2 separate regions of the Homo sapiens genome follow, and region 1 is linked to region 2. The links come from fine-mapping of genetic effects on gene expression. A gene starts in region 2. The other region holds a variant in brackets. All regions are shown on one strand. Distances are between the middles of the regions. Region 1 overlaps TCERG1L (transcription elongation regulator 1 like). Region 2 holds the start of TCERG1L-AS1 (TCERG1L antisense RNA 1).

What was found. PIP is the estimated chance that this variant, and not a neighbour inherited with it, causes the effect. A credible set is the group of variants that fine-mapping cannot tell apart.
Region 1: its variant is the best candidate, but not a certain one, in a credible set for the expression of TCERG1L-AS1 in thyroid (GTEx, PIP 0.90).

The regions. Positions count from the first base shown.
Region 1 is chr10:131,145,575-131,149,964 of GRCh38, reverse strand. TCERG1L (transcription elongation regulator 1 like) reads left to right here. Exons shown (of 12, transcript NM_174937.4): 7 at 3,305-3,459. Among named protein-coding and RNA genes, the nearest start is that of TCERG1L-AS1, 53 kb to the right of the region's middle. RefSeq lists an enhancer at 2,314-2,815. The variant T/C (reference allele first, on the strand shown) is at 2,428.
Region 2 is chr10:131,092,896-131,097,285 of GRCh38, reverse strand. TCERG1L-AS1 (TCERG1L antisense RNA 1) reads right to left here and starts at 2,068. Exons shown (of 2, transcript NR_120623.1): 1 at 1,987-2,068; 2 at 1,509-1,898. It overlaps TCERG1L (transcription elongation regulator 1 like), which reads left to right. Exons shown (of 12, transcript NM_174937.4): 12 at 3,968-4,390. The coding sequence ends at 4,124.

The DNA of each region.
Region 1 (4,390 bases), 53 kb before region 2:
TCAGGCTTGGGGCTGCCTTTCCAGCCACTGTCCAGTCATGGAAGCTTCTGAAGCCCTTGAGGGGCCGGATCTGGGCTTCCTCTGGTCCTGACATGCTGGGCATGAGACATACAGCATGAGGAGGCGGGCTCAGGGTTTCTTCACTCCCTGCACCCCCGCTGGCATCAGGGTCTCATCGATGAGTCTAGCTGCATTCCTTGCAAGAGGGGTGCCTGGAGACAGAGCCCAATGTCGCAGTAGTAAAACTGTCCACGTCCTACGTGTTGCCAAAGAGCCCAGGCCTCGTGGGGAGCTAATAATAGGCTCTGCCTGTGGCCCACTCACTCACAGCTCCACCCGGGAAGCAGGTCATCACCAGGTCTGCGTCTGGAGGAAAGGAGTCAGTCTCTACCCTGGGCTTATGTTCCCTATTGGCCCATGCTGTCTGCAGAGTTCATATAGTAGCTGAATTGTGCATAATTTACAGCACAGTGTGGTTACCTTCAGCTTTAGACTCAATAAAAACTTCCTATGCTAGCCGGGTTCTGCACCATAAATGCATACCCACAGCCTCCCTGCAGGCCCCAGAGGTCAGGTATCCCTGGCCTGGGCTTGCTGGGGACAATGGTCTGCCTGATCTGAGAGCAGGAAGGGATCCAGCTACCTGGGTGTGGAGTCTGCTGTAGTTGGCCAGCCTCATTTTCCAGCCTCCAGCATGGGCCTGGGCAGCACCCCACGGGCCCATGAGCCCGCTCCCCTGAGGGCAGGACCTGGCATGGGAGTGTGATACACTCTATCTTGGTCCATTTCCCTAGTTGGGTGGACTGTCCAGATAAAGCAAATTCCCATTCCACCCCCCATCTGAAGGGTTGAGGGCATGAGGCCACCAGCGAGGGGAGGCGACCTTCTCAGGGTCACCTGGTAGGTCAAGGGCAGGGCTGGAGCTGGAAAGTTTGCCAGGCAGAAGGGCAGGTCATATTCTCCCACATGGATGACCAGGCCAGCTGTGGCCAAGGCCTCCAGGCACAACACTTGGGGTTCAGGTCAGGGCTCCCAGATGCTGGTGCTCAGGACAGAGTCGCCCCGAGGGGGAAGCCCATTGATTCGTCTCCCACAGACTCAGGGCTCCAGCGACACACATTGATTCTCTTACAGTTGGGAGGATCAGAAGTCTGACACAGGTCTCACTGGGCGAAAGTCAAGGTGTGGGCAGGGCTGGATCCTTCTGGAGCCTATGGGGAGGTCCATTTCCTGCCTTTTCCATCTTCCAGAGGCCCCTGCAACCCTGAGCTCGTGATTCCTTTCTCCAGCCTCAAGGCCAGGCATCTCCCGATCTCTGTCTCTCCGTGTGTGTGTGCATGTGTGTCTCTGTGTGTGTCTACGTGTGCATGTGTGTCTGTGTGTCTGTATTTGTGTGTATGTGTGTTTCTCTGCATGTGTGTGTCTCTGTGCATGTGTATATGTGTGCATTTGTGTCCCTTTGTGTGTGTATATATGTGTGCATGTGTCTGTGTATGTGTCTGTGTGTGTTTATGTGTGTATCTCTGCATGTGTGTGTCTCTGTGTGCATGTGTGTCTCTGTATATCTGTGTGTTTATGTGTGTGTCTCTATGTCTGTGTGCATGTGTGTCTCTGTGTGTCTGTTTGTGTGTATGTGTGTTTGTGTGTGTCTCTGAGAGTGTGTTTGTGTGAAACACCTCTGCCTCCATCTTCCTATCTCTTCCTCACTGATCTTCCCACCTCCCTCTTAGAAGGACCCTTGTGATTACATTTGGGGCCACCTGAATGACCAGGCTATTCCCCCATCTCAGGGTCCTAATCCCAACTGTACAGACCCTTTGCCATGTAAGGTGATGCACACCTGTTCTAGGGATCAGGACGTGGACGTCTTTGGAGCCATCATTTTGGCTCCCACACTCATGAGCGTGGCTGGGCTGAGTAGTGGAGCCGGCACACCTTCTCAGGGTGATTTCTGGGAGGGGTCCTGGTCTGCCCAGGGTTGCCAACATGCAGGGCCCCAGGCCCTGAGCCCTCTGCCTGGCCCATGGAACGTGCCTGGGTGAGTGAAGTGTGGAGTGATTTTCTGCATGCAGAACAGAGTGGCTTCTTTTGGCACGAATCCCCAGCTCCTCCCGAACCTGTGCGAGGCTGGCGGGAGTGAGGCGTGAGTGGGCTACCGGGGGCCTAGGCCGTGCCCGACAGTACCCCCAACAGGTCGGGGGCCTCCCTCGGGGAAGTCAATAGCTAGAGGTGGGTATGTGGGTGTTCCCACCCATTCACTCCTGCACATCTGAAAAGTCCCAGGAGACTTGCGGAGCCAGAGGGACCTTCTGAAGTCACTGCAGGAAGCCGAGGCCCAGAGAGGGGAGGGGGCTTGCCCCAGGGGAACCTCCTGGGAGGTCCACACCTGGAACGGGCCTCGGTGCCAGCACAGGCCTCAATCTCTAA[T/C]AGCACCCTGACACGACTTAGGGGTTAAACCCAGAGCCCCGGCCGGCCTTGCTGGCCTTTATCTGCCGCGCTTGCTCGTGGGGACAGCGCGGGGTCAGAGTGTCAGAGTGCAGAGTCTCCCGTGCACCTCCATGCCGCAGGCTCCCGGACCCGCATTCCTTAGGGAGGGACTTTTTTCCTTTCCTTCCCTCTCATTAATTTTCTTCTCTTCATTTTTTTTTCTTTTTAATCTTTTCTGATAACTTTTCACAGATAAGGGGCTTAAAAAGGGCACATAATTCCTTTTAGATGTCTTCAGTTTCCATAAATGAAAATACAAATCTTCCTTATTTGCCCATCCACAAATGAGCAGGACACCGGGGCTGTGGTTGCTAATGACAGCAGCCCTTTTAATTCTGCTGCTGCCGGAGGGTAATGACCTGTGGCCGTGCGCATTGCTTGATGGCCATGCAGAGCTCAACTGGGGAAGTGTAGGGAGCCGCTCTCCGAATTACTCTATTGCCGGAACCAGGGCCAGGAGGCGCCCCAGAGTGCTCTGCATCTGGAATGGAATTTCACTGAGGCAGTGACAGCTGGTGGGCTGGAGAGAGCTCTGCCTGCCTGTGACCTTGATGAGCTGCTTGGCTTCTCTGAATGTTGTTGTTCTCCCTGGTCTAAGGCTGGTGATAAGAATGTCTACCTGTTAATCAAATGAGTCAGATCCGTAAGGTCACCTAAAAAGGCAGGCTTTGTCTTTAGTATTCATACTATCCATAAACAAGCTTTGCAAATGTGTGGATTTCGGTCCTGAGGGGCTTTTTCAGTGAGAGTTCATGCTAACGACTTTCTAATTAAGTGTCTCCGAGAGCGACTGAGATGAGTTTTTCCACTCAAACAGGTGTGTGGTCTGGACGGGCGATGACCGAGTTTTCTTCTTCAACCCAACGATGCACCTGTCTGTCTGGGAGAAGCCCATGGACCTGAAGGACCGCGGAGACCTCAACAGGATCATTGAGGACCCGCCCCACAAACGCAAGCTGGAGGCACCAGCAAGTAACTAAGCCCTGGGTTATTTACACCTCCTTTGAAGTGTTTAAGCTGCTTATTTCTAATGAACGTAAAGTGAAAGCATGTTTCTTCTTGGTTATGTTGAAAATTGACTATTAAGGAATCCTGTGCCCGATTGCAGAGTTTAGTAATCAAGTTTTTATGGCACTTCCTGCAGAAACCTTGATCCTTCCAAGCGGTCGGCTCTGGCTGTCTTTTTGCATCACGTAAGGTGATTAACGCAGAGATGGCCATTCATTCCCTCCGCCCCTCAAAGCTTCCATCCAGCATCACTGTTACCCAGCATTTTATTCTTGTTCCAAATGTCTTATGAACGCCACTTCAGAGACCAGATGTACGCAGATGGGAGTGTGTTTTCTTCCACCTTACATTCACTTTAGACCTTTGCAGCACATTGATCTGCTGTTGTGCTTGGATGGATGCCTCAATTCCATAAAACCCTGGTCACGGACAGGGGAAGAGATTTTCTTCAGCTGCAGAGGAATGGGGTGCTTGGCAGAGGCAGTTGTTTCTGACAATGCCTGTAAATCTTGTTTCGCCAAGAAACAGAGAGGAACTTTCAGCATTTTCACAAAGGATCTTTTCCGATTAGATCTAATACATATTTTATTAGCTGCTGCGTGGGGAAAGCCCTCCTCCCAGAGCATGTGGATTCAAACGGTCTTGACTCCACTGCAGACATTTGAGAGCAGGAGCTCCCTGCCAACTTGAGAGGCAGAGATGCCTGGCTACAAGGCCAGGCCAGTGAAAGGGGAGCTTGACTCTTTGTTTTAGTTTTGTGTGGTATTCTATTGGGTTCTTAGTGGCATTTTTAATTTCACGTCATTGAGGGCTAATGCTAGATGATGGTAATTCACACTTTGTGTCAAATCCAGAGGTATTTGACTGAAGCTTCAGAAGACAGTATTATAAAAGT
Region 2 (4,390 bases):
AATGGTTAACAATGTATTTTTATTTTAGACTGGAAGATGCAGCATCAGTTTTTTGTTTGTTTCTTTTTTTTTTTTTTTTTTTTTTGAGACAGACCCTCGCTGTGTCACCCAGGCTGTGGTGCAATGGCACGATCTTGGTTCACTGTAACCTTTGCCTCCGGGGTTCAAGCAATTCTCCCTGCTTCAACCTCTCAAGTAGCTGGGATAACAGGCACCCACTACCATGCACAGCTAATTTTTGTATTTTTAGTAGAGATGGGGTTTCACCATGTTGACCGGGCTGGTCTTGAACTCCTGACCTCAGGTGATCCACCCACCTCGACCTCCCAAAGTACTTGGATTACAGGCGTGAGACACCATGCCCAGCCAGAATCAGTTTTTTCTTTCTTTTTTTTTTTTTTTGAGATGGAGTCGCTCTGTTGCCCAGGCTGGAGTGCAATGATGCAATCTCGGCTCACTGCAAGCTCCGCCTCCTGGGTACATGCCAAGTAGCTGGGACTACAGGTGCCCACCACCACACCCGGCTAATTTTTGTATTTTTAGTAGAGAAGTAGAGACGGGGTTTCACCATGTTAGCCAGGATGGTCTGGATCTCCTGATCTTGTGATCCACCCGCCTTGGCCTCCCAAAGTGCTGGGATTACAGGCATGAGCCACCGCGCCTGGCCTGCATCGGTTTTTAAATGGACATTAATTGATGCTTTCTATGAAGGCATAGGCCCCCTTTGTTTGACCTGTGATTTGGTTGATCAAGAATTAGGTGACCTAAGTTAGTGCTAGTTACACAATCCTCATAAAACTTCTCTAGCTATTCTAAGGACAGGTACTTTCTGAATAGGGAAAAAATAGCATGAATTATCTTCATCACAAGTGCTAATGTAGACAAGGAAATGTGTGTCCTGTTGCCTGCAACTTGTGATTTTCCATTGTTAAAGCAGTCATGAGAATGCTGGGTTCTAGCCATGGCTTAGCTGTGTCCACCCACCAGGTGGCCTTGGGACAGAGGCGGAGGAGGCAAGGGCTCTGGAAAGGTGCTGGAGCCCCTTCTCTGCCTTGGTTCACAGCCTGGCCCTGGCCCATCTTCTCCTGGCCATGGGGTAAGTATTGGACCTTCCTGTGCTCCCGAGCCCTCCTCCAAATGGGAGGATGACCACACACACCTCAGAAAGTGACGAGGAGGATGGCGTGAGGAGTTGCAGGGAGGGACCCCGACGGTGCCTGGCAGGCAGGAGGAGCTCCGAAAGTGGTAGCTGTCATTACTGCTATTGAGACCATCATTACTGTTAAAGACATCTGGCCAGCATTCTCTATTGATAAACTAGCAGCAATAAGCCACATACTCCCCTTCCCATGAATACATCATGAAGACAACGGAAAAAATATTCGGAATGCATTGAGCCATTTAAAAAAGATGACATACACACATACACGCACACAGAAGGAAAACGAGTGGTAGAAATTAGAAGGGAGTTAAACGGACTCTTTTTAAAATGAGAGTTAATTGCCTGCTATTTTTTAAAATAAATTTTATTGTATATATTTAAACTATACAACATAATGTTATAGGGCACATAGAGATAAGATGCTTACTATAATGTAGCAAATTATTTTAAAATTTACACTGGGATATATTGCTTTGATAATTATAAAGCTATTTTTTTCATTTTAAAAGTAGCTAAGTTTTCAACATTTCAAAAACTTTTTCCAGATCTTCTGTATACTTTTCTGTAGGCATCCTAGTGAAACATGTACAATTCAAATGACCACATGCTGGAGAGCCAGGCGCGTCCCCATGCAGGCGACGTGGGCCTCTTAGAAGCAGCCTCCTGAGGCTGTGTAGCCTCCTGCAGCCATACAGTCCCGTCCTGGTCGCCCGTCTCAGCCTCGGTCCTGAGCAGCCTGTGGGAATGGTGGCGACGGGACAGTCCAGAACACTCCTGGACAGCCCCTAGCCCCAGCCCTGCCCGCCTCTCGGGAGAGCAGCTACCGGGGACTGGGTCCTAGCCAGGTGGGGTTGGCCGCCCGGTGGGGTTGACGCCCGGTGGGGTTGGCCGTCCGGTGGGGTTGGCCGCCCGGTGGGGTTGACACCCGGTGGGGTTGGCCGCCCGGTGGGGTTAGCCGCCCAGTGTTCCTTCCTGAGAGCTGCAGCAGCCGCCTCCTTCATGGCAGGCTGGCCCGAGTCCCACTTAGCAGAGGGAGAGCAGAGATCCAGGGCCTGTGAATCAGCTGACCTTCGTGAGTTCACACCACAGCTCATCAGCATCAGCAGAAAGCCGGTTGCTGCCCCTTGGCATGGCTAAGGGGCCACGGAAGCGGGAGGCTCCCTTTCTTTTCAGGGACTCTTCTTTTCAGAGAGGCCCAGAATAGGGCCTGTCTAGCAGCTGCCCCTGTCCAGCCCCTAACTGAGAATGTGTAGATGCCTGTCTAGCCAGGGGAGCGTGGAACAAGCCCAGGCAAGTCTGACCGTTTGACTCATCCCCCGCAGGTCGGGGTGGAGTGTGGCTTAGCCAAGGTACACCAAGGTGGTTACATCAGTAAAGGAAGGAAGGGGGAAGGAGGGAGAGAAGGAAGAAAGGAACCGGGAGAAAAGGAGGGAGGGAGAGAAGGAAGGAGGAAGGGAAGGCAGGGGAGAGGGCAGGAAGGAGGGAGGGAGGAAGAGGGAAGCCAGAGAGAAGCGCTTTTCTTGCGAGAGATGTGTAAACAAGCACCCCCACAGACGGAGAGCAGGAAAACGGCAGCGCCTTGGGGAAGGAATGAGACGAATTGTTCAATGACAGAAATGAGCATGAGTCTGCTAATTATTTGTCTTGTCTTCTAACAGCCATGTCGGCATAATCTTGTTGTTTGTATATTTCAGAAGCTATTAAGTTATAATAATTTAACACAATAATTCCGTGTCTGCAAGGAAGTGTAAAATTCTCTGTAAGGAGAAGTGGGAGGGAATAAGAAGAATCCCCCGGACAAAGAATGTCCACATTTTCCGTGCACCCCAGAGCACACTGCCCAGGCCAGGCCCTGCCCGACTGTCGCTGGACAAGCGAGTGCATCTGCATAGGCCAGCGGCTCCAGGCCTTGGTCCCTCTACCTCTGTCCCTGTCCCTGGCTTCAAGTTCAAGGCTAAGAGAACAGGAAGTTGCGGGGCCCGGTGCCTGCGAAGGTCAGTTGGTCACAGCAGAGGCGCATCCTGTTTTGCCCTCTAAGCTGCCGTAGCCTTGAGAACAGCCTTGCTGCTCTAGGCTGGGTCGCTCGCATTTTCTTACGGGGCACCACCTGGCCTGGCAGCTCTGATTCGCTCCATCAGTGTTTGGGGCTCACTACTTGCCAGGCACTGGGCTGGACATTCAGGGCATTTATTGGAGAACGAAGCAGATAATGTCTCCCTCATTCGAATGTGGGAGTCCAGTTCCGCAAGTGAGGTTTAACAAGATCACCACTGTGAAGAGGGCTGTGATGGAGTCACAGTTCTCTGAGCCTCTAGATAGGGCGAGTTTCCCAAAGAAGACCCCCTGGCCTGGTTTCTCATGACGAGCAGCTCTAACTGGGGGAAGAAACAAGGGAAGGGTGTACCAGGCAGAGGGAACAGTGTAAGAAAGACCGTGGCAGGCAGAGCCTGGTGGCAGCAAGGGAGGGGCGGAGGAGACCTGGCCAGCAAAGCTGTGATCGGGGCGGCTGGGGGAGTGACAGCTGCATGAGACGGCTGAGGAGGCTGGTGGGGGCCGCTCATTTCCGGAGACCACTCAGAGGAGAGACAAGGGGGTCCTGCAAGTGAGGGTGGGTCAGGGCCCTGCAGGACCCGGGTGAGGAGCAGGCACGGCTGGTCAGAGCCGCTCACCCACCGGGTGCCCTGCCACCCACGGCCAGGCCTGGTGGAAGGGCTGGATGCTTGCTCAGGCGGTGCCGCTGCAGGATCTCTGGGGAGGCCAGAGTTGCTCTCTGGAAGGTGTCTCAGGAAACTCTTTCTTTTTCAGGACCACGTTTAAGGAGTTTGCAGAGAAATACGGCCGGGATCAGAGGTTCCGACTTGTTCAAAAAAGAAAGGACCAGGAGCATTTTTTCAACCAATTCATACTTATTCTTAAGAAACGGGACAAGGAAAACAGACTAAGGCTGCGGAAAATGAGATGAGTTTGTGAAAAAATGCAATAAGCCCGGGGGTTGACCCTGGGCGTGCCGGGGGCGAGGGGGTCACGGTGGAGACGGACACGGGCGTGGGGCGGCCGAGACCTGCACGGCCCAGCGGGCACCGGCACTGCGGGGTCTTCGTTCTCAGAGGATTACTGTTTCATATTGAAGCTCTCTCTTTTGTACATTCAGAGTTTGATGCATTTCTAATCACCGTGATACGTCGATCCCTTAATTGTTTTAATTATGCAAATTACTTGTAATATACA